Homo sapiens: one gene and its partners. The protein of the gene in region 3 purifies or fractionates together with the protein of the main gene of each other region. This does not show direct contact. Each region holds a gene or a part of one and is shown on either strand. Other genes may lie near its edges.

Evidence for each region.
Region 1: the proteins of MGAT4C (region 3) and GAL purify together in Homo sapiens (affinity purification with mass spectrometry; 2 studies listed by BioGRID and IntAct, with this or other methods). This does not show direct contact.
Region 2: the proteins of MGAT4C (region 3) and PLXNA1 purify together in Homo sapiens (affinity purification with mass spectrometry; 2 studies listed by BioGRID and IntAct, with this or other methods). This does not show direct contact.

Annotation. Positions count from the first base shown.
Region 1 is NC_000011.10:68,687,529-68,691,695, reverse strand, and holds the end of GAL (galanin peptides preproprotein), read right to left. Parts: intron 3,856-4,167; exon of another isoform or gene 3,693-3,855; intron 3,683-3,692; coding exon 3,596-3,682; intron 2,905-3,595; exon of another isoform or gene 2,848-2,904; coding exon 2,770-2,847; intron 780-2,769; coding exon 709-779; 3' UTR 521-708; downstream 1-520. UniProt on the Homo sapiens protein: Endocrine hormone of the central and peripheral nervous systems that binds and activates the G protein-coupled receptors GALR1, GALR2, and GALR3.
Region 2 is NC_000003.12:127,014,100-127,021,134, forward strand, and holds part of PLXNA1 (plexin-A1 precursor), read left to right. Parts: coding exon 1-17; intron 18-82; coding exon 83-276; intron 277-378; coding exon 379-530; intron 531-611; coding exon 612-732; intron 733-1,084; coding exon 1,085-1,221; intron 1,222-2,417; coding exon 2,418-2,585; intron 2,586-2,844; coding exon 2,845-2,938; intron 2,939-3,325; coding exon 3,326-3,565; intron 3,566-3,649; coding exon 3,650-3,793; intron 3,794-4,194; coding exon 4,195-4,429; intron 4,430-6,102; coding exon 6,103-6,245; intron 6,246-7,035. UniProt on the Homo sapiens protein: Coreceptor for SEMA3A, SEMA3C, SEMA3F and SEMA6D. Necessary for signaling by class 3 semaphorins and subsequent remodeling of the cytoskeleton. Plays a role in axon guidance, invasive growth and cell migration.
Region 3 is NC_000012.12:85,973,363-85,980,397, reverse strand, and holds part of MGAT4C (alpha-1,3-mannosyl-glycoprotein 4-beta-N-acetylglucosaminyltransferase C), read left to right. Parts: coding exon 1-1,109; 3' UTR 1,110-7,035.

The sequences.
Region 1 (4,167 bases), on a different chromosome or scaffold from region 3:
CTCAGTCTCTGTCACGTTAAGAGATATTCCCACAGGCCTTCCTTCACACAGCACCATCCCTGCACACACCTCCTGCCCTTGCCTTTCTACCTGCCCGCCCATCTCTCCTCTCCTGCCTTGCTCCTGGCCCTCCCACCTGGCCAACACGTCTGTTCTCAGCACTGACCACCTCCATGAGTACCACGCAACTCACCCATCTGTTTAAGGTTGTTGTAGTCTTTTTCATTCCCATCTCCCTAAAATATCAGCTCCACGAGGGCAGGGGTTTTGTCTGTTTTGTGTTTTTGTTCATCTCAGTAACAGACTTACCTTCATAATTACATTTGACTCAGCTTAATATGGAGATAAATTTATGTCCCCTGGACATGCAATAACAGGTGGTGTCTCAGATGCTCTTGACGGTAGAATTTGGGTTTAAAATTCATGTCTAATCCACGATTATGATCAAGCTTTATCTTTTAAAACCCATGGGTGGCGCTGGTGATGAGACAGAGGTGTGGAAGAAAAAGACAATTGCAAGTAATTGCTATTCTTTATTTTGCCACTCAAAATAATTACCAAAAAAAAAAAATCTTAAATGATAACAACACAACATCAAGGCAAAGAGAACAGGAATGGCTGACTCTGCATAAATTGGCCGAAGATTATCCATTATCTTAAGGTTTGACTTCAGGTTACAGCACACAGACAAACATGCCCAGGAGGCTCTCAGGACCGCTCGATGTCTTCTGAGGAGGCTGCGGCGGGGAGATCCAGGAGGCGGTCGAGGGCACCGGCCTCTGCAAAGGGAAGAGCCACATCTGAGCAGCAACTTCTTAATATGCACATGAGAGAATTACAACCACGACACATGCTACAGGAAGCGGCGTGTGGTCGTCCTCTGTAAAGATTCTTACCAGATTAAACCCAGAATCAGGGACAACACTCTGTATTCCTCACTTCGTAATGATTTAACTCCCACAGTTAGTAAGCATTTAAAACTGTCAGACTTTTAAATTCAGGCTTTAAAGAGGTATAATTCCTAGCTGAGTAATGAGAGCTGGTATATCCTAAGGAAAGAGTTTCCATGTTACAAAATTAAAAACAAATGAAAAACAAAAATCTAGCAGAGTCCCTCTGCCCCTTGTAGGAAAAGTCACCCCAGCTTTTCTCCCAGAGGCTCCACTGGGCTCCAACAGAGGGAACTTGGTGACTCGGTTTTGAGATTTCTAATGAACACCGCCTTTTCCAAGACCTTCTCTGGCAGTCTCCTTCCCCCGCTCCCCTCCCCTCACTCCTCTTCCCTCTCCCCATCGCCACCTAAAGTGCAGCCCGATAACACTGCAAATGAAAAACATCCTGATCCAAAATGAACCCAAGGATTAGCCTTGATTTTTCAAAACTGGACAAAACTGTGATGTGCAACTGAAGGTCTCCACTGGAGAGGCTAACGGTCCATCCCTCCTCCCCACCACCAGCTCCCTGTTAACTCTCAGAGCAGCAGGTGAAGGTCTTCTCCACTGGAGAGGCTAAGTGGTCCATCCCTCCTCCCCTCCACCACCTCCCCCTTAACTCTCAGAGCACCAGGTGAAGGTCTTCTCTGCTGGAGAGGCAAAGCGGTCTATCCCTCCTCCCCACCACTGCCTCCCCCTTAACTCTCAGAGCACCAGGTGAAGGTCTTCTCTGCTGGAGAGGCAAAGCGGTCCATCCCTCCTCCCCACCACCACCTCCCTGTTAACCCTCAGAGCACCGGGGCCGCTTTCCGGCTCCCTCCACTGCTGCAGTAGGACCTGTGTGGTTATCTGATCAAGGCCAGATGCCCATCGTAGAATGAATGCCAAGCGTAGTGTGCGGAGGTCTCCTCATCCCCAGTGTTTGCAGAAGACACTGGAAGCCAGGATCAGAGCCTTTCCAGTTAGATTTCAAGGCAGCCTGCCTGGCAGGAAGGCTGCATAGAGAAACACTGCAGTCTAAGATATGGGCTTCTATTAATTTCCCATGCTTAGAAAATATGGTTTAGGGCCAGGCACAGTGGCTCACGCCTGTAATCCCAGCACTTTGGGAGACTGAGGCAGACAGGTCACTTGAGGCCAGGAGTTCAAGATGAGCCTGGCCAACATGATGAACCCCAGCCTCTACTAAAAATACAAAAATTAGCCAGGCATAATTGTGCGCACCTGTTTTCCCAGCTACCTGGGAAGAAGAGGCACGAGAATCACTTGAGCCCAGGAGGCAGAGGCTGCAGTGAGCTGAGATTGCACCACTACATTCGAGCCTGGGCGACAGAGTGAGATGAAGGAAGGAAGGAAGAAAGAGAGAGAGAAAGAGGGAGGAAGAAAAAGGAAGGAAGGAAGAGAAAGAAGAAAGAAAGAAAAGAGAGAAGAGAAAGAAAAGACAGAGAAAAAAGAAAAGAGAAAAGGTTTAGGACGGTTCACAAAGAACTTGGCCTGTAGTATACCTCTGCCCTAAAAGGTACAGCAGTTGTCACCGTGTGAATAGATATGGTTCCAGTAGAATGAGCTGCACCCTGAGGCCCACTCTCTTCCTGGGACCAGCGCTGGCCCGATGGCCCTCCACGACGGTAGAATGCCCCTGCCGCAATCCCAGCCCTCTGGAGCTAGCTCTAGTGTTACATTCTCTGTTATCCCGACACACAGCCAAACAGGACTTTGTACGTAGATAAGTAATCGGCTACTTCCCAGGGGGATTCTATGGGTTCTCTTCTCGATGGGCCTTTTACGTTTCCAGTGTACTAAGAGATGAATGTTAAGTTGATGATATTTCACATACCTTTGAGATGCAAGAAAGACAGAAACTCAATGATTGTGCGCATGATATTGTTTTCAGGTATGGACCTGTCAAAGCTTCCTAGAAGAGAAAAGATCAACATTCACGACTTGTGCAGAGGGTGCTTCAGTGTCTCAGGTCATCCCCCTCCCTACAGAGGAGCTGGGCGCTGCAAGGTCAATGATCTGATCCCAGCAGCCTGAGGCCCTGCTGTGCTTTCCAAGGCCCTTGTTCAATGTGAGGGAGTTGGGGAGATATCCAGTTCGAGGCCTCGCTTTTCTTCTTCTTCTTCTTTTTAATTGAGATGGAGTCTCACTCTGTTGCCTAGGCTGGAATGCAGTGTCATGATCTTGGCTCACTGCAACCTCCGCCTCCCAGGTTCAAGTGATTCTCGAGCCTCTGCCTCCCAAGTAGCTGGGATGACAGGCACCCACCACCACGCCTGGCTAATTTTTATATTTTTGGTAGAGACAGGGTTTTGCCATGTTGGCCAGGCTGGTCTTGAACTCCAGACCTCAGGTGATCCACCCGCATCAGCCTCCCAGAGTGCTGGGATTACAGGCAGGAGCCATCGTGCCCAGTCCCGCTCTTCTGGAGGCCCTGGTGCCTGGGCAGCCTCCCAGCCTAGAAGGACCCCTTGCTGTCTCGGGTTTGCACGTTCTGTTTGCAGCTGCTGACAGGTGTGGCGAGGCCACATCGTCTTAGTCAAGTCATGGCCAGGCTTGGGCTGCAGCTGTGGACAGCCCCGACACCCACAGCTGTCCCCTGCATGCACCTGGGAGCTGGTGGAAGTGAGGTGCCCCGGGGCCCGGGATAGGAGTCCTCTCACCTGGTTTCATGTCATCTTCGGGCCGCAGCTCCCGCTTGCTGGTGAGGCCATTCTTGTCGCTGAATGACCTGTGGTTGCCAACGGCATCTGTTTGCAGATCAGAGAGGAAAGCCTCTGGGTGTGACTGTCATGCACGCCCTCCCCACACCCAAAGAAGGACACAGGGCTGCCTGTAGCCAACACACACACGCAACTCGACTGTGAAATAGAGCCCAGGGACAGACACCAGAGCAGAGGGAGCGATTCTCCACCCAGCTGAGGTAAGAGCTTGGCCGCTCACACCAGGGTCAAAGGGAATGTGAGGGTTTGCACAGGGTGGGTGGGAGAAAGGGAGGTGTGGCTCCTGAAGTGGGGGAGAGGCCCAGAACCTGCCCTGTTGCAGGGGTTGCGCCTGGGTCCAGAGGAGCTGGCATCTGAGCTGGCACTGAGCTGGCATCAAACTGGGTGACTCCCTGGCAGACAACAGGAGCTGGGTCCTCATGTCCCTGAAAGCATGGGGGACGCTGAAGAGTTTAAGTTGTGACTGAATCTGATTTTTATTTTCACTCTGGCAGCTGTGTGCAAGATGGACT
Region 2 (7,035 bases), on a different chromosome or scaffold from region 3:
CCCACAGAACATCCAGGGTGAGTGGGCGCCCCGGCGGGGTGGGCAGTGGGCGGGCCCGAGCTGACCGCACCCCTCCCCACAGCGCACCTCTACAAGTGCCCGGCCCTGCGCGAGAGCTGCGGCCTCTGCCTCAAGGCCGACCCGCGCTTCGAGTGCGGATGGTGCGTGGCCGAGCGCCGCTGCTCCCTGCGACACCACTGCGCTGCCGACACACCTGCATCGTGGATGCACGCGCGTCACGGCAGCAGTCGCTGCACCGACCCCAAGATCCTCAAGGTAGGGCCCCCAGCCCTGCCCCCACACCCCATGCCCCGCCCTGCACCACCGCACACCCTACGCCCTGTGGGATGCCTGTACCCCAGCCTCTGCCTCCCTCAGCTGTCCCCCGAGACGGGCCCGAGGCAGGGCGGCACGCGGCTCACTATCACAGGCGAGAACCTGGGCCTGCGATTCGAAGACGTGCGTCTGGGCGTGCGCGTGGGCAAGGTGCTGTGCAGCCCTGTGGAGAGCGAGTACATCAGTGCGGAGCAGTGAGTGCAGCCCTGGGTGTGTGCGGGGCGGGACGGGACGGGGCGGGGCTCCTGCAGCCCCTGAGGCCCGCCTGCCCACAGGATCGTCTGTGAGATCGGGGACGCCAGCTCCGTGCGTGCCCATGACGCCCTGGTGGAGGTGTGTGTGCGGGACTGCTCACCACACTACCGCGCCCTGTCACCCAAGCGCTTCACCTTCGTGGTGAGTCTGCTGCCCTCCCTCTCTCCCTATTCTCTGCTGCTCTGAGAGGGTGCCGCTCAGGGCTTCTGTGCCTCTTCAGGGCCCCTTGTCTGGCCATGCTCTGCCACTGCTTTTCCACGGCCTGGGTGCTGCCCCTCCCCTCCTGTGCCTAGGCCAGCTCCAGGGCTCCCTGGCTCACCTTGGGCTGTGCCTGAGAAACCTGGAAGTACTGGCTCTGAAGTGCAGCTCCCGGGCATGCGGGCTCCTAGTCTGGGGAACTGTCTGTGGGGGTAAGCAGGCCAAGTGGGGCCTGTCCCCATGTGGCCCGAGGGGGACTTTCCTGAGAGTTTCAGCAAGTTCCCTCTTCCTGCAGACACCAACCTTCTACCGTGTGAGCCCCTCCCGTGGGCCTCTGTCAGGGGGCACCTGGATTGGCATCGAGGGAAGCCACCTGAACGCAGGCAGTGATGTGGCTGTGTCGGTCGGTGGCCGGCCCTGCTCCTTCTCCTGGTACGGGGTGCAGGTGGGGGTGGGGGCCTGGCTGCCCCTCCTCCTGTTTCAGATGGTTGCATGCCCCTTCTTGTTGCCTGGGCAACGGGGCTATGGAGAGCCTGGCTGGGGTGATCACTGTGAAACCCAGAGGCGGAGGTTACCATGGAAACAGGCTACCTCCAGAGTGGTAGGACTGGGCGGTGATGGGCGTGGGGCCTGCCTTTGTGGGGCGGGGCAACTTGGCTGCCTCTGCCCTGGTTCTTCCCTGTGGGGAAGGGGGGAATCCCTTGGGTACAAAATAAGAAGTATTTTTTAAAAATTTTTAAGAGAGAAAACAGAAATCTTAACAAAAGCCCTGAGGCTTGAAGTGGATAATTTTAGATTAGGGATGATAATGGAATGTCCCTTTAAATATTTTCCTATGGTAATTACCCGTTATCAGACTAATCATTGGTGTCTGCAGCTGAGGGGGCCTGGTGGCTGTGGGGCTCCTGGCAGTGGTGGAAGAACTGAGGGTCCGGACCCAGGTGTGGGCTATGCCTGGCTGCCTGCCCAGTGGGGTGTCCCCGTGACCCCCACCCAGGCCAGCTCATCTAGTCTCCTCACAGCCCCCTGGGATGCGGGGATAGGGCGAGGTATTCCCACTGGGACAGGTGCCGAGAGGGAAGGTGTCTGCCTGGCCCAGGGTAGTAGGAGTGGGTGCTGGGCTCCCAGCACTCGGAGCCCCGGCTGAGTGAGGCTGGCCCTGAGACAGGCAGGGAAGGTCGCGCCAGGGCTTAGTCTCGCCAGCCCTCCCCAGGGACAGAGGGAGGGCAGCATGAGCCTACCTCCCAGCCTGGCGTGCGTGGGACGGGCCTGCTGCCTACTGCCTCTGGGGAGGCAGAGGCCTGGTGGGTGTGGAGCCCTGGCCAGGGTCACCAGGAGTGGGTGTGGGCGACAGGGAGGCTGTGATGAAAGCAGACCTGGAGAGGCGGCAGGCCGGGTCCCAAATGCCAGGCTGGGCAACAGTGGGGGCCTGAAGGGGCTGGGAGCCAGGGCGAGGGTAGGACAGACATGCACAGCCCTGGGAGGGAAAGTAGCGGTGATAGTATGCAGCCACCCAAGGCAGTACCTGTGACAGATGGCGCTGTTCCCACCGTCCCTCAATGCATCTGCATTCCACCTGCCTGGGTTCCACCCGTGTGCTCCTCACTGTCCCACTCGGGCACCTCCAGGAGGAACTCCCGTGAGATCCGGTGCCTGACACCCCCCGGGCAGAGCCCTGGCAGCGCTCCCATCATCATCAACATCAACCGCGCCCAGCTCACCAACCCTGAGGTGAAGTACAACTACACCGAGGACCCCACCATCCTGAGGATCGACCCCGAGTGGAGCATCAACAGGTGGGGCCCAGCAACACCCATTCCCTATCCCCAGCTATTGAGAGCAGCGCTGAGCCAGGAGCTCTTCCACTGGGCACTTGGCGGTGGCCCTCCTGCATGCCGGGTACTATCCTGCCGGGAAGCACCCCTTGCCAAGAGCTTTTACCTGTTTCCTGTCTTTGGGGAAGGCAGGCTTTGCCTGGCTGAGCTGTGGCCCACGTTTCCAGCTCACTGGGCCCCAGCATCATTTGGTGACCCCCCCACCCCTGTCCTGTTCCAGCGGTGGGACCCTCCTGACGGTCACAGGCACCAACCTGGCCACTGTCCGTGAACCCCGAATCCGGGCCAAGTATGGAGGCATTGAGAGGGAGAACGTGAGTCCCTGCCCTCAGCTGCCCACCTCGGTCCAGGCCTTCACCTGGGATGGGGCTCCTGCTAGGAATACCCGTGTCCCTGCCCCTGCCCCTACCCCTGCCCCTTCCCAGCTTATGCCAACCTTGGCTGTGCCTGGAGACCCCTGGGGAGGCACCTGTCCTGCCTGGCGGGTAGAAGGTCTGGCTCTGGGTTGCTGGCTGCACACACCTCTCCTTCAGGCCACATGTCCCTGGTCCACGTCGGGTGGGTGGCCCAGGACCAGCCCTGCTAGTGCCTGGCATCATCTGTGCAGGGAGCAGGCAGCCCCCAGGCCAGGGGCTCTGTCACTGGGAGCTGCCGGGCCACTCGCGGAGGTCCCGCCCAGCATCCCCACCCTGTGTCTCCAGGGCTGCCTGGTGTACAATGACACCACCATGGTATGCCGCGCCCCGTCTGTGGCCAACCCTGTGCGCAGCCCACCAGAGCTGGGGGAGCGGCCGGATGAGCTGGGCTTCGTCATGGACAACGTGCGCTCCCTGCTTGTGCTCAACTCCACCTCCTTCCTCTACTACCCTGACCCCGTACTGGAGCCACTCAGCCCCACTGGCCTGCTGGAGCTGAAGCCCAGCTCCCCACTCATCCTCAAGGTGGGTCACCATTGCCCGTAGGCTGGGCCAAGCCAGGGAAGAGGCCCCTCGTCCTGGGCTCTGGCTCACCCCCATCTCCTACAGGGCCGGAACCTCTTGCCACCTGCACCCGGCAACTCCCGACTCAACTACACGGTGCTCATCGGCTCCACACCCTGTACCCTCACCGTGTCGGAGACGCAACTGCTGTGCGAGGCGCCCAACCTCACTGGGCAGCACAAGGTCACGGTGCGTCTGTCCACCGGGGGTGCAGAGCTGGGAGAGCCATGCCCCACCTGTGGACCCTGCCCCACTAGCACAGCCCCAGCTCTGACCTTGCCCGAGACTCACCCCTAGCTCAGAGGGCGCCCGGCTCCAGTGCAGGCCCTGCCGTAGCCTTCAGCCTGCCACCTCCTTGAGCCCCCCGAGACTGCCTACCCACCCTGAGCCCTTGCCATGCCAGTGGTGCCCTGGCTGGCCAGGCGCCTGCCCTGGGTCCCAGTGTCTCCACCCTGGTGACCACTCTGTGCCCCTGTCGGTGGGACCTTTCCCACAGGCAGGTGTTGGGGGTGGGTCTTGCCCATCGGGAGGGGCTCCCAAGCTTTGTGGAAAGCATGGGAAGCTCCTGAGTGGCCTCCACCCACTGGCAGGTGCGGGCAGGTGGCTTCGAGTTCTCGCCAGGGACACTGCAGGTGTACTCGGACAGCCTGCTGACGCTGCCTGCCATTGTGGGCATTGGCGGAGGCGGGGGTCTCCTGCTGCTGGTCATCGTGGCTGTGCTCATCGCCTACAAGCGCAAGTCACGAGATGCTGACCGCACACTCAAGCGGCTGCAGCTCCAGATGGACAACCTGGAGTCCCGCGTGGCCCTCGAATGCAAGGAAGGTCTGTTGGGGCCAGGGCTCACTGGGGCAACTGCCACCTCCGAGCCAGGCCCTGGCCTGTCCCCACACCTACTTCCCACCGCCGCCCCCACCCTGCTTCAGCTCAGTTTACAATGTTCCTGATAGCCTTGCTGTGCCAGAGCTGGTCCCAGGGCAGTGGGCGGGTGCCTGACCAGGGCCTGGCCCTGCAGCAGGTACCACCTCCTTGGGGTGCTGCTTGCGACACAGAACCCAAAGCCAGACTGTTTGCATTTGTATCCCAGCTGGGCTATAAGGCTGAAGGTGGCTACTTACCCTTCTGTGGCTCAGTCTTGTCGTCTCTAGAGTGGGCACAATGACAGTGCCTACTTTCCCTGGGTGCTGGGAGTCGTGGTGGGTTGGCTGGTGCCAGCGGAGCAGCAGAGAGGGGTGCTTCCACCATGCAGCAATGGGGAGCCCTTGCGCTTTGGCAGTCCCTGGGCACATAGAGATCTTGGCCTGAGCTGACCTTTGTCCTTGAGATGTCTATAGGGGGAGTCATGCCACACCATGCTCCTGATCAGGGCAGGTGTGAGTGGCAGAAATCTGTTCCATGCCGGGCGAGACTTTGAGCGTTTGCAGATAGTAACTCACACATGTTCAGGGCTCTAGGGGGCAGATACTAGGAGTGTTCCTGCTGCAGTGTAGGACCTTAGCCATGTGGTCCAGCATGGGGTTGTCATGAATTCCACTGGGACTCAACTGGGATGGGGTGTTTTGTTTGCACAGGACTCAGCCAGTCTTAAAATGCAAAGTTCTGCATCCTGGGAGCCCTCTCAGTCCCAGACAAACCTAAGTGGCCCTGTGGTGGGCTGAGGGTCACCCTACCTCTTGGGCAGCCCTGGTGGGACTGGAGGCAGGTGTGTGTTGGGGCCAGGTGGGAGGCAGGTGGCCTGGACCTCCCTTGTGCTCCCGCCTGCTGAGGCTGGCTGTCTGGCGAGGCTGGCGTGTGTGGATGCAGTGGCTGGTGGCTGCTCCAGGCCAGCCAGGTGCAGATAACTAGACGCCTGGCAGCGATGCCCAGGAGACGAAGACTCCAGCTCTTAATTAAACCTGTCAGATGTCCCCCAGAGCCTGCCTGGCACTCCTTTGGCTTCTGATCAGATAGCCTGATCCTCGGGCTGCCACAGGACTGACACCTCACAGCTCTGGAATGTTCTGTCAGGGCCTGCCTGCCTTTGTTCCTGACAGAGGCAGAGCTGGCCCTGAGCAGGGTGGGCCATGTTGAGGGTGCACCAGGCCCGAGATGTGCATGCAATGGTGTGGGGGCTTGGGGACAGCCTGCAGCCCTGGGACCTCACCCCTGGCCGCACTCCACCACCTCACAGCGGGTGGAAGGAGCCCGAACTCCAAAGCTGCTCTACGCTTAACTGCCAGTGTCTGAGATGCAGGAGGCCCTGCCCAGCCTGCCCCTGGTGCTGATGCTTTCTCTGCCCTTGTCTTGCTTGATCCTGTGGGAACCTTGCAGAGGAGAGTTACTATCCCTGTGCTAGGGCTGTAGTAGCTGGGGGACGAAGAGGCACAGTAGTTTCCTTAAGATCACGAAACCAGTAAGTGTCAGAGCCAGGATTTGATGTAGGCCCCAAGAGTGGGAGGGTTGGGGCATGGAGCGGGGCCACCAGGGCATGCTGCCCCTGACGCCGCATCTGGCCACAGCCTTTGCAGAGCTGCAGACAGACATCCACGAGCTGACCAATGACCTGGACGGTGCCGGCATCCCCTTCCTTGACTACCGGACATATGCCATGCGGGTGCTCTTTCCTGGGATCGAGGACCACCCTGTGCTCAAGGAGATGGAGGTAGGACCACTGGCTCCGGGGGGTCACAGGAACTCAGAGGCAGCTGCTATCTTCTGCCTTTGAGGCTCCTTGGGTGCTGATGGATGGTATGGGGCAGCCTGTGTGGCCTGGGGGAGGGTCCAGGCCTGCAGGGCTCTGGGCTCAGCCAAGTGGGGAGCAGGTGCTGGGAGGCAGAACCAAGACCAGGCAAGCACAGTGGAGCCCTGAGCCCTGGGGTTGGGGCAGGGGAATGGCCAGCACGGCTCTGCTCCATAAAGTACCTCCAGAGGGCAGGAGGAGGCTCTGGCCCCAGGGCCTCCGTGGGATGCCAGGCCTCATCCCAGCAAACCACTTGTCAGCCTGGGCTTCTGGCACCTCCCCGGTGGCTGCCCCTTGGGCCCTGCCTCTGTTGGGGGTCCCGCCTGCGGCTCCACTGGCCTGGTCTCCTGGGTGGCTCTGGATGCGAAGCCTCGCTGGGCAGGGGCCGTGTGCTGGGAGGTGCGGGTGCCTGATGAAGTCTGCTATGGCGGTTTGGGAGGGGAGCATGTGGCTGGCATAGCACCAGGGTCTCAGAGAGTAGGGCTTTGCCCCGTAGACCTTGGCAGCGAGCCTGGCGAGGGAAAAGAGGGCTGGCTCCCACACCCCTAAAAGGCCCCCAGCGGCAGGCAGGCTAGGAGCCAGTCCTTGGCGAGCCACGGCCAGGGGCTCGGCAGGTTAGCTCAGTCACACTCTCCAGCTGAGGGCACCCCCCAACCGTGTGCCTTGGATGTTGGGGAGCCCATGTCCCTTGTGGTGACTCTGTTGGTGGGAA
Region 3 (7,035 bases):
GAAAAAAAGGAAACTATTTACTTGAGACAATTAAGTCAATTTTTGAGCAATCCAGCTATGAAGAGCTGAAGGAAATTTCAGTGGTGGTTCACCTAGCAGACTTTAATTCTTCCTGGCGTGATGCCATGGTCCAGGATATTACACAGAAATTTGCGCACCATATTATTGCAGGAAGATTAATGGTTATACATGCTCCAGAGGAGTATTACCCAATCCTAGATGGCCTTAAAAGAAATTACAATGATCCAGAAGATAGAGTCAAATTTCGTTCCAAGCAAAATGTAGATTATGCTTTTCTGCTTAATTTTTGTGCCAATACTTCAGACTATTATGTAATGCTTGAAGATGATGTTCGATGTTCAAAAAATTTCTTAACTGCCATCAAGAAAGTCATTGCATCCCTAGAAGGAACTTACTGGGTAACTCTTGAATTCTCTAAGCTTGGCTACATTGGTAAACTCTATCATTCTCATGATCTCCCACGTTTGGCCCATTTTTTATTAATGTTTTATCAAGAAATGCCTTGTGATTGGCTATTGACTCATTTCCGTGGTCTGTTGGCTCAGAAAAATGTGATCCGTTTTAAACCATCTCTCTTTCAGCACATGGGCTATTATTCATCATACAAAGGGACGGAGAATAAGCTGAAGGATGATGATTTTGAAGAGGAGTCATTTGACATTCCTGATAACCCCCCTGCAAGTCTGTACACCAACATGAATGTGTTTGAAAATTATGAAGCAAGCAAGGCTTACAGTAGTGTTGATGAGTACTTTTGGGGGAAACCACCTTCAACAGGAGATGTTTTTGTGATTGTATTTGAAAATCCAATTATAATAAAAAAAATTAAAGTAAATACTGGAACAGAAGATCGGCAAAATGATATTTTGCATCATGGAGCCCTAGATGTTGGGGAAAACGTTATGCCTAGCAAACAAAGGAGACAATGTTCTACTTACTTAAGACTAGGAGAATTCAAAAATGGAAACTTTGAAATGTCAGGTGTAAATCAAAAAATTCCATTTGATATACATTGTATGAGGATATATGTCACCAAAACACAAAAGGAATGGCTAATTATTAGGAGTATTAGCATTTGGACTTCTTAGCCAATTAAATCAGTATGTTCAGTTTCTGAAGCAGTTCTTCCTGCTTCGTCTTTTGCTACCTTTGTCTTTTGGAGGGAAAGCAATGGATGGGATATGTTAAAAGAAACATTAATTACATTGGCAGTTTTCATTTATACATTGTTGACATAATTTTACTCTTAATACACACTTGTATTTATTTTAACGTCTGAAGTTGAATATCAGTCTATAGCTAATGCTACTTTCATTTATATTTTTAAATGTTCTTAGTTTTAAAATTTCAACTGATTGTCGAAAGGGTAATATGAAAGATTTTAAATGAAAAAAATTTGTTGGATGATGATTTTTGAAAAATAGTCACCAACTGTATATACTTCCTCAAGAACTGATAATTCATTATATCATCAGATAGCTTTTATTAAGCATCTGTGGGAATATACAGTTGGGTGGAATGATAATCTGGTTTATTTTTTCTGTAAACTTAAGTTTCCGTTGACTTCTGTACATCTACAATGAATACCTCCTCATAGAAGTGGTGTCTTTACATAATTTTTTGTGTAGGTGACACTATGGAAAAAGAAAAAAAAGACTTAAAAATATCTCTCCCCTGATTATTTATATGAAAGGGGATATTGTTCATTGTTTAAAAACATTTAATTGAGCACCTATTGTTGATAAATTTTCTGGGGGAAGCAGTCTTTTTCAAGTTTCCCTTTTGAAAAAAAAAAAGAAGAGTTAAGCTCAATATTTTCAGGTTACATTGAGTACCCACATTTAATAGAATAAATTAGGGAAGGCCTATAGTAGTTAGCTCATTCGTACAGACATTTTCAGTATATGCAGAAAATTTTTGGAAATTGATTTTATACATTTTGTATTAAAATCCATGTGATTGAAATTATTGTGATTTATCATATACCTTTTTGGAATTTAAATGGGTATATTATAAAGGAGAAAAGTAAGAACCATAGAAATTAGTTGACTTTTCTAGAATCAAAGATCTATTTCCTAGCAAGGCCAGAATGAGAGATCTGATATTCTGATAACCAGACAATGCTCTTTTTCTCGTATGATTTCTCCTGACAGATTTATGCTTTGTGTTCTATTTGCTACATGCCTGTCAGATAATAAGTTATACCATCTGGAAATAGGTGGTACAATTCCTGCATAAATAATATTATCCTAAATAATGTCCTAAATGATGCTTTTTTGGTATAAGCACCCAAATAGTAAGCAAACTTGACTAAACTTTTCCTAATAGGGATTGGAGAGTGTGTCTTTACAATGTGTCCGTTAAAGTAATTCAGGACACCTTAGTGTGTCCTAAAGACATTGGTTTTCAGAATGTCCTGAGCTTGTCTCTTCCTTTTTGTTTTTTAATGAACAGCAAAAACTAAGGGATTTATTATAAAGGGAAATGGAAGGTGCTTCATATATGTTTAAGAAACTCAAGTACGTGTTCATATAGATGACTCTGTGTGTGTGTGTGTGTGTGTGTGTGTGTGTGTGTGTGTGTGTGTGTGTGTGTGAAGGCTAGACTTTTGCTGGTAAGACAGAATGAGGAAATCTTCCTGCTCTTCCTTTTCATACTGAAACACAATCCTTAAGATTTACTGGTATGCTGTGGTGCAAACAACACTAGGATATTTTTATTTTATTCGTTCTCTGCAAATAAATGAGAAACTCAGATAAAAAATGGAAACTTTTTATTTCATTTATAAACAGCTGTTGTGTATTTTCTTTGTATTCAGCTACTAAAGTGTTAGAAGAAAAACGAACCTTTCATAAGAGGCTAAATATTAATATTTTGTGAGGCACCTAAATCTTACAGTCATAGGAAAATATGAACACTGCCACTAAATTATTATCTTTACCTTGATTTAGAGGATACTTGCCAGACACCTAAAAATGTTCTATTTTCTTTATTTTTCTTATCTTTTATTAACCGGCTAGTTGATAGTATTGTGTGTATATCTCAGAAGTTACAAATGGCATTATTTTCTTCACTGTCAATGATAAAAGGTACACAATTGTATGCCAAAGACATGTAATATCAAGAGCTAGGCAGACTCCCTGAAATGAGTTGTAACCCCTTACATATTCTTCTGGGAATGGCTTTCTAAAGATCAGCTATTGGTGTCTATCAATGTCTTAAAAATGTTTCAAGAAACATTGCTGAGGGTAGCAGTGAAGTTGGATGTTTGCTAGGAAATTATGAAAACAAATGTGACTCAGAGAGGTCATTTCACATTTTATCTTTATATCCTCTCTTTACTAAACCTGTGTTTGGATAAGTTGGTCAATCATCCAAGGATCCTCTATGTTTTCTTTACAGTTGACACTGGGTCAATTTTCTAAGGAAAACACCTTGACAAATAAAGCATCTTCATTAGAGGTCAGGAGGAAAAATAACTATTCTCTTTCAAAAGAAAATCTGAACAATTTTTTTAGCATGGCCCAATGTTCTATTTCCTATATTTAGAAACTTTGAATAAGGGTCTAGTAATCTTGTCTCAGAGGCATAGAAACAAAAGTACAGTTATTAGGTTTAACTATACTCAAACTATTTGCTATTTTTAAACATTTTTGCTGTAAGTTTATATATATATACATATATAATACATATATACATATATATAATATATATATACATATATATATAATTTTCTTTGTTAAAAATAACAATTGAAAAAGACTGGCATGAGACATGAATGGCTGAGTCATTTAATTGCCATACAAATAAAATGCTGACAGGTTTCAAGCAAAAAATACAGTATGCACCTTAAATAATGCCTCAGAATTGTATAATTTAAGCTCACTAAAAACCTTACTTAGTCTTAAAATTCTCCTTAGGGGAGCCTTTTCAGCAGTTATGGACATCAAAGAAAAAAGTATCTTGTAAAAGCACAATGAAATTTAGAAAATACACATTTTAGTGGCAATCACAAATGTCAATATAAAAGATACATAAAATATGTTAATGCAAGAACTTTTTCATATTCATTGAAAACTATAACTTTGTGCTATTTATAAAGTAGATATTTTCCAGGTATGAAAATATAATTTGGAAACCAACCTGTCGTTTAGATCTATTTCTTTCATATAGCTACACTATGAGTTGTGAACATTCCATTTCTTACTGGGCCAGTATTCTCTGGGAATTTTTATAATGCTATCATAGAAAAACTGTTCTGTATAATAATTATATAAAAAATGAAACAAACATTTTCAAATTGTAATATATGATGTGGTATGGAAAGTACCTACATTTTTAGATGCTCAAATATTGGCATATTTCATGTCAGTATTTGCCAATTTGTCAACAAGTTTATGGCAAAGAACATGATACCAGGATTAACATTGAAAACACTACATCCAGTGCCATCTAACAATTGAAGGAAACAGTGTGTAATTCTCTTCTTTTTCCTTGACAATACATCCATCAACACAGTAATGGCATCATATTACTGAGTAATAGAGCTCACACTTAAACTTTATAATATTTATTATGGGATCTACTGATAAAATGATTTACCGTTTTGTACAAATTCAACTGATTTTGGGGGGTTTCTTGTAAGATTTAATATTAATTTTAGGATAATTTTATCCTGTTTCTTTTGATTCATGATCCCAAACTTTCTAGATCTTGCTTCTGTCATTCCACGTCTTATTATGCCTCCTCAGCTTTGTGTTTCAACAAATTTTATATGCATGCCTTTTGTCTTCATGGGAGACAAAACAGAAGGTTCATACAGACTTGATTTTGACACCCAGTTCTGCATTACCAGCCTCCCAATATGAGGAAATTTACTTAACCTTCTTGAAACTCAGTTTCTACATCTGTGAATAGGAATAATTTTACCTCATATGTTTTTAAAGGTAGCAATTTTACCTTGTAGCTCCTTGTAGAGCTGGAATTGAGATAACATAAACTAGGCACACAATAAATATTTGTTTCCTTTTTATCCATGTCACGTATATGTAACAGGATATGACCCTGGAAAACATTACCAGAGGCCTTCATTGTAATCAATAACAATTATAAAATTTACTGCCCTTTAAAAATGTTATTCAGCCTACCTTTTCATATTTTGTCCAGAGAATATCATGTGGAATTATACAGACACTTTCCTAAAATCAATATATATTCCTGTCATTCTAATTTATTACTCTAGAAACCTTATCAAAAATATCAAAATTGCCCCTAGTGCTCTCATCACAAATAATAATATTCATTTCTGTTTTAAGAAATCTTGATCCATTTACATTGAAAAACAAAGAAACATAAAGTCATTTCCTAGTTTCTAAGATGTTGTTTAGAATCTACCTTAAGCTCAGAAATGCAGTCTTCAGAATCTTTTTACTTTTTTTTTTTAATGTCAGGATCCGGTTCTCTGGCATCTTTTCTATCATTGGCAAAAGTTATCAATGCACTGACCTATAAATTACCTTGGCACTGATGTTTGAAATAGGTATCTTATCTGCTAGTCTACTTTGAGTTTCATTGTTGAGTTTTCCATTACTTTGAATTTCTTTGTTCAGATTGGGGTTATTCTTTTTAGGAAGAAAAAGGCCATAACAAAATTCAATGTGATTAGTTATTGCCATTTATTTTTTGTTTGCTTTTAAACTTTTTTTTTATTTATCCCAAACAGAGGATATATCTTTTATTACTTTTTGGCATGCTTTGAAATGATTTCATTATTGCATATGTGCATGTGTGTATCTACATATGGTTAATCTCTCAATCTGTGTGTATGTATATATACATATGTGTATGTACATATGTGTATATATGTATACATACTTGAATATTATGTGAATATGTGTGTATATTTGTGTATATATATACATATATACATGTATGTATTTGTATATGTGTTGTGTAAGTGTGTCTGTGTGTATGAGAGAAAGACAGAAGGATATGCACCATTTGCATTATTTTTTAGCCTTTACACCTCCACTTATTCTTGGATTTTCCTGACACACTGTCCTCCTGGTTGTGTTCCTCTTCTGAACTTGCTTTTGCTTTCATGTTCTCACTCAAATCTTTTATACATGACATCCTTTGAAAATCACAGCACATTAGAGATCTTTGTGCATCCTTTTAGATACTTTAAATTTATTAAAAGTGTACTAGAGGAGGCCATCTCTCTCAAAACAGAATTTTTCTTTTAGAGTTTCAGGTTTATGGTTTTTATTTGAATTCTTTAACATTAAAAGATCAAAATATGAGTTGCATAGCATTCTCTTTCTAAGCTATAAAAATATTAAGATAACAAGGTTGCACTTTCCCAAAGTTCTAGTCCCTTCCACCTCATTAATCTGTTCATCACATTTACTCCAAGTCCAGGGTAGAATTTGCTTCAATAATCCCAATATTTTCTGAGATGTTTAATATCCTATTTTTAACATTGAAATTGAAATGTATGTTTGAGACCATTTGCCAGATAACTGGATCTGAATATCTTTTCTGAAAAACATGGATTTGAGACCAAAGCAGTTTTTGATTTGACTGTTGTTTCAGCTTTCATTTCACTCTGTCTAGACGGTCTCTTAGAAGATTTACCAAAAAGTTAAATTGATTATGTGAGAAAGTGATAGGTAAATTGTATATGACCATAGAAGTACAATTAAATTAAGAATATAGCATGATCAAATTTTCACATTATATTGGATTAAAAAGTACCCTAAGTAGCCATCTCCTTAAAGTAGGTGAGCCAAAGACATAATAATAAAATATTCAATATTTTTCTATAAAATACAAATTTCCATGAGGCACACATACATTAAATTTAATATAAAGAGAATCATTACTTTATTTAAGAGTTGTTTAAAGGTGCACAACAACAGTGAGTTACCAATATTCAGAACCTTAGTCTATAATTTCAATGTACTGTAAGTTACTACAGCTTTAACCACAATAGCTGGCATAACCTAAATCATT